Linked DNA regions of Homo sapiens: region 2 is linked to region 1. The links come from fine-mapping of genetic effects on gene expression. A gene starts in region 1. The other region holds a variant in brackets. All regions are shown on one strand. Distances are from middle to middle. Region 1 holds the start of CCNYL1 (cyclin Y like 1). Region 2 overlaps LINC01857 (long intergenic non-protein coding RNA 1857).

Region 1 (2,913 bases):
CTCCTGCCTCAGCCTCCCTAGTAGCTGGGACTATGGGTGGACGCCACCATGCCTGGCTAATTTTTGTGTTTTTAGTAGAGACGGGGTTTCTCCATGTTGGTCAGGCTGGTCTTGAACTCCTGACCTCAAGCAATTCACCCGCCTCTGCCTCTCTAAGTGCTGGGATTACAGACGTGAGCCACCGCGCCCAACAAGAGCAAAACTCCGTCTCAAAAAAAAAAAAACAAAAAAAAAACAATCCCATTTTGCAGGTTTTATAGAAGAAATTGGGACGCAGAAGTTAAGTTACTTCCGCAAGCTTACATGACTGCTCAGGGTGAGGGTCCCTGATCATGATGATCAGAAAATAAAGGTAGAAATCAAGCTTAGGGAGGAAGTGACATTGTGTGTATATATATATATTTGTTTATTTATTTTTATTTTTATGTTTTATTTTTTTGAAACGGAGCCTAGGTCGCCCAGGCTGGAGTGCAATGGCGCGATCTCGGCTTACGGCAACCTCTGCCTCCCGGGTTCAAGTGATTCTCCTGCCTCAGCCTCCCGAGTAGCTGGGAATACGGGCGCGTGCCACCATGCCCGGCTAATTTTTTGTATTTTTAGTAGAGACGGGATTTCACCGTGTTAGCCAGGATGGTCTGGATCTCCTGACCTGGTGATCCGCCCGCCTCGGCCTCCCAAAGTGTTGGGATTACAGGCATGAGCCACCGCGCCCGGCCGGGATTGTTTTTAAGGGTTAAATAAATATACCACAGTTGGAACACTGTCTGGCACATAGTGCTTGCCAAATGGTAACTATTCATCTTCATGGAATCAAGACTGTGGTGCCCCACTGCATGGTTCTCAGTTTTGCGTGAGAAAATCGTGCTTTCTGTGCTGTTTTTAGTACAAGAAGAGAAACCTGGAAGTCCCTGCCTAGAGGAGAGAAACAGGCAAGAAAAGGGAGTTGGCGAGTCCCAGCATTTCAGAGTTGGCAGGGACGAGTTAGGTCCCTATTTTATGGATGAGGAAGTGGAAGGGTGACGTGTCCTCGAGTCTCATTCAAGACCCACAGCCACAACTCTTTATGGAGAGTAGGACCAGGGCCCCAGGGTTGCTATGATCACGTTGCAGGTGAAAACTAACGCTCATTGGAAGACAGGAGCGGAGCACTGAGTTACAAAAACAGTTAACAATTTGGGTGTAACCAAGTTTAGTGAGCAAACGAAAGCTGTCAGACTCGGAAGAAGAGTTGCTAATGGAGCGAACTCTTTACTAATAACGGCTTTCTACAGAGATCATTGACACAGCTTCCAGTTACAAATGCCCGTGCGCTTCCAGTAGGACCGGAAAGCTCCCAGCAGCCAGCGATGAATGAAAACCCGAGTCTGGGATAGCGGCGTGAGGGGCTGGGCAGCTGCCAGGCGGGGGCGGGGCAGCAGGTCACGTGCCTGGCTTCGAGGCGGGCGCCGGAGGGGGAACTCTGACCATGATTGGTTCCTCCTAACCAGGTGACCGCAGGTCGCGTTCCGGTTGGCAGGCACCGGCCAGGGCCAGCGGCCTTCAGTCGGTAGGCGGCGGCGGAAGGAGGAGGAGCTCCAGCCGCGCTCTCTCCCGGCAGTGGCTGTGCTTCACAGCGCTTGTTGGGTTCCCCACCCCTTTTAAATAAGCCGGGCTGGTCACCGCCCTCGCAGACGAGTCAGCTTAAGGGAGGCGGCGGCAGCGCGGCGGTGGGGGTGCGGCCGAGGCCCGAGCCCTGCCCGGGGCCGGGCCGCGGGGCGGGCGGGCGAACCGCGGGCGAGGCGGCGTCTGCTTGCGCGGTGCAGCCCCAGCGTAGCCCGGGGCTGCCGGTGCCGGCCGCGCCATTGTTGGGGGAGGGGGCGGCTGTTGAGGGCGGCGGAGTAGGGGGCGAGCGAAGGCGGTGGCAGAGAGGAGCGGAGGCTTCCCATGGGGAACACGCTGACCTGTTGCGTGTCCCCCAATGCCAGCCCCAAGCTGGGCCGGCGCGCGGGGTCGGCGGAGCTGTACTGCGCGTCCGACATCTACGAGGCGGTGTCCGGGGACGCGGTGGCGGTAGCGCCCGCTGTGGTGGAGCCTGCCGAGTTGGATTTCGGAGAGGGCGAGGGCCACCACCTGCAGCACATCAGCGACCGCGAGATGCCCGAAGGTAAGGAGGCGGCGGATGCCATCCGCCCTCGGGCTCACCTCTGCCCGCCTCCTCCCCCAGAGTCCCCCGGGAGGCATCCGCCGCCTCGGGCTCCTTCCTGCCGGTAGCCGGCCCCGGGACGAAGGCTGGTTCTGCCTCGCGTCCCCACCCCTTATTCTTGCCCTGCTGCGTCTGGCCAGTTTCTTTTCCTCCTCCTTACCGTAACGCCCAGTTCTTGCTCCCGCTTCCCATTCTCCCAAGCCGGCGTGGGACCCTCTAGTCCGCCGCCCTTCTTGTTTGTAGCTCTGTTCATTGTCTGGTGGGACTTTGCTAAGACTTTTGGGGTATATTGTTTTCCTTTTCTCAATGGAAACTCAAATACCTCAACTTCGGAGTACTCATCCCATTCCCTCCCTTAACCCATCCAGATGGTACCTAAGTGAAGGAACCAGGTAAGGGTCTGATTGTTCCTTCCTCCCATCCGTGAAGATAGCTGATGCCCGCGACAGTTTAGACCCAGATGTTTGAGGATTTCTTATCTAGACTCAAAATAGAGGTTGCCATAGGAGACACTATATGGTATTCCTAATAGGTTAAGTCGGCGTGAAAGAAGCTGCTTTATTCCTTCCAACTATAATTTGAACACAGAAAGAAAGAAAATGGGGGGAGGGGCGTAAAATGACTGTGAAGGGTGTGAGAGGTTATTACCAGGGGTGCAGACAAGTTGTTTTTTTGAGACGGAATCTCGTTTTGTCGCCCGCCCAGGCTGGAGTGCAGTGGCGCGATCTCGG
Region 2 (2,913 bases), 31 kb before region 1:
TGGCCCTGTAGGAGTCTGCTGGCCATACATCTGGGTGTCAAATCAAGAGAGCATGAGAAGTTGGACAGGAAAGGTCCAAGGCAAAATGGTTACTAAAGGCCATCCCTGATCCTGACCCTAAAAGAAGAAAAGGCCCTTTGCTCTTGGCATGCTTTTGCAGGAGTGTCTCAGTCTGTTTGGGCTGCTATAACATTGACTGGGTGATCTGCCTGCCTGGCCTCCCAAAGTGCTGGGGTTACAGGTGTGAGCCGCTGCACCAGGCCTTGAGGTCAGGAGTTCGAGACCAGCCTGGCCAACATGGTGAAACCTGTCTTTACTAAAAATACAGAAATTAGCCAGGCATGGAGGCGCATGCCTGTAATCCCAGCTACTGGGGAGGCTGAGGCAGGAGAATCGCTTGAACCCAGAAGGTGGAGGTTGCGGTGAGCCCAGATAGTGCCATTGCACTCTAGCCTGGCCAACAAGAGTGAAACTCTGTCTCAAAAAATAAATAAACAAACAAACAAACAACAACGATGTGTTTCTTCATGGTTCTGGAGGCTGGGAAGTCTTTGATCAAGACGCCAGCAGATGTGGTGTCTATGGAGAGCCTGTGTTCTGGTTAGTGAGCAATACCTTCTCTCCGTGTTCTCACGTGGTAGAAGGGGAGAGGCAGCCCTCTGGGGCCTCTTTCATGAGGGCACTAATTCCATTCATGAGGGCTCCCCTCTCATGACCTAATCACTTCCCAATGGGCCCACCTGCTAATACCATCCATCGCCTTGAGGATTAGGTTTTTAATATATGAATTCTGGGGGACAAAAACATTTTGATCATAGCCAGAAGGTAAATCGGTGTTGCTCTAAACTAAGGAAACAGAGAGGACTCTGGGAAATGCTCCTCCCTCCCTGGGGCTCCTAAGCTTCTCAAATATTTTCATCATTGCCATATATCTCTCCTCAACCACGCTACAGCCCTGGATTAGAACATAGCATAGGCCACGACTTTCAATTTGCTTATAATCTGGTGTAGAGATTCATTCATTCACTTAATATACATGCAGCACCTACAATGTGCCATATATATATGCCAGAAAGGCAGAATATTTGCCAAACAAAAGGTGCAACTACTACATGCAATGAGATTTGGGAAGCTGTCTCTGAGGGCTGGATAGCCTGGGAAGGCTTTATCAAAAACTCGTGATTTGAAGTGGGACTTGTAAAATGGGTGGGATTTAGACTGGAGGAGAAGGAGGAGGTAATGCTGGAA[A/G]TACAGAGGTGTGAGTAGGAGACATGAGGGAATTCAAACTGGAAAGGGAGGTTCCAGGCCAAGCGTGGTGGCTCACGCCTGTAATCCCAGCACTTTGGGAGGCCGAGGCGGGCAGATCACTTGAGGTCAGGAGTTCAAGACCAGCCTCGCCAACATGGTGAAACACTGTCTCTACTAAAAATACAAAAATTAGCCGGGCATGGTTGCAGGCACCTGTAATCCCAGCTACTCGGGAGGCTGAGGCAGGAGAATCACTTGAACTGGGGAGGTGGAGGTTGCAGTGAGCCAAGATCATGCCACTGCACTCCAGCCTGGGTGACAGAGCAAGATTCTGCCTCAAACAAACAAACAACAAACAACAACAACAAAAATTTATACTTTAAAAGAGTGAATGCTGCTATGTAAATTCTATCTCGATTTTTTTAAAAAAATTAGACTATTTATTTATGATCCCTGAATGGAATTAAACTAAATGATAAAAATTTTCTTAAAATCAAGGTAGGAGTCACTTTTTAACCAAAGATTATATTCTTTTTTTTTCTCTTTTTTAACTTTTGTTTTAGGTTCAGGGGCTCATTATGCGGTTTTGTTATATAGGTAAACTCATGTCACGAGAATTTGGTGTACGAATATTTCATTACCCAGGTACTAAGTGTAGTACCTGATAGGTATTTTTAAAATATGGAACACTTCATGAATTTGCATGTCATCCTTATGCAGGGGACATGCTAATCTTCTCTGCATCATTCCAATTTTAGTATATGTGCTGCTGAAACTAGCACCAAAAGTTATATTCTACAGTGTAGGTCAAATGAAAATTGCATCTGATCTATGAATATTACTCTGGAAAAATCCCTTGAATTGTCCAGGGTATAGTAATAGTCAGGATTAATATATTCTTTACTGTATCTTAATAAACGCAGTGCAGCCAGTTTTTCCTCCAGCGTTGGAGTCCATCACTGTTGCTGTGGATCGGCAACAAATGAAGTCATTGGTTTGCATTTCAGGCCTCTACTGTATGAAAAATACAGGTTGTGTGAACATAGTTGACTTGTGAGAAATTAAAGACATAGATAATCCAATTTCCCTGAATTCTGTTTTTTGAGACTGAGTCTTGCTCTGTTGCCCAGGCTGGAGTGCAGTGGTATGAACTCCATACACTGCAACCTCCACCTCCTGGGCTCAAGTGATTCTCCTGCCTCAGCCTCTCGAGTAGCTGGGACTACAGGCATGCGCCACCACGCCTGATTTATTTTTATTTTTATTAGAGACAGTGTTTCTCCATGTTGGTCAGCCTGGTCTCGAACTCCTGACCTCAAATGATCCACCCGCCTCAGCCTACCAAAGTGCTGGGATTACAGGCGTGAGCCACCGCACCCAGGCTTGAATTCTTAAATTCTATTTCCTTCATACTATTTCATCTAATTCCTTTCCTCACTTGTATTTATCTTATGATTAAGTTATCCTATCTGGTCCTAGGGAACCTTAACATTCTTTAGGGCGGCCGCGGGGGACAAAGGGCGGGCGGATCCGCGGGGAGGGGGCGGGGCGCGGCCAGGCCAGGCCCGGGGTCTCCGCATGCTGCAGCTGCTCCCGGGTGCCCCCGCCGCCGCCCTCGCCGCGGAGCCGCGCGGAGCGGAGCCGGCGAGCTAACCCGAGCCAGCC

The links. PIP is the estimated chance that this variant, and not a neighbour inherited with it, causes the effect.
Region 2: its variant is the best candidate, but not a certain one, in a credible set for the expression of CCNYL1 in transverse colon (CEDAR, PIP 0.55).

What each region holds. Positions count from the first base shown.
Region 1 is chr2:207,709,974-207,712,886 of GRCh38, forward strand. CCNYL1 (cyclin Y like 1) reads left to right here and starts at 1,667. Exons shown (of 10, transcript NM_001330218.2): 1 at 1,667-2,143. The coding sequence starts at 1,924. RefSeq lists enhancers at 859-1,058, 1,069-1,118, 1,471-2,467 and silencers at 1,339-1,788, 2,209-2,318, 2,331-2,490.
Region 2 is chr2:207,678,610-207,681,522 of GRCh38, forward strand. It overlaps LINC01857 (long intergenic non-protein coding RNA 1857), which reads left to right. Exons shown (of 4, transcript NR_135566.1): 4 at 1-513. It also overlaps the pseudogene RNU6-664P and the pseudogene PPP1R14BP2. Among named protein-coding and RNA genes, the nearest start is that of LINC01857, 18 kb to the left of the region's middle. The variant A/G (reference allele first, on the strand shown) is at 1,249.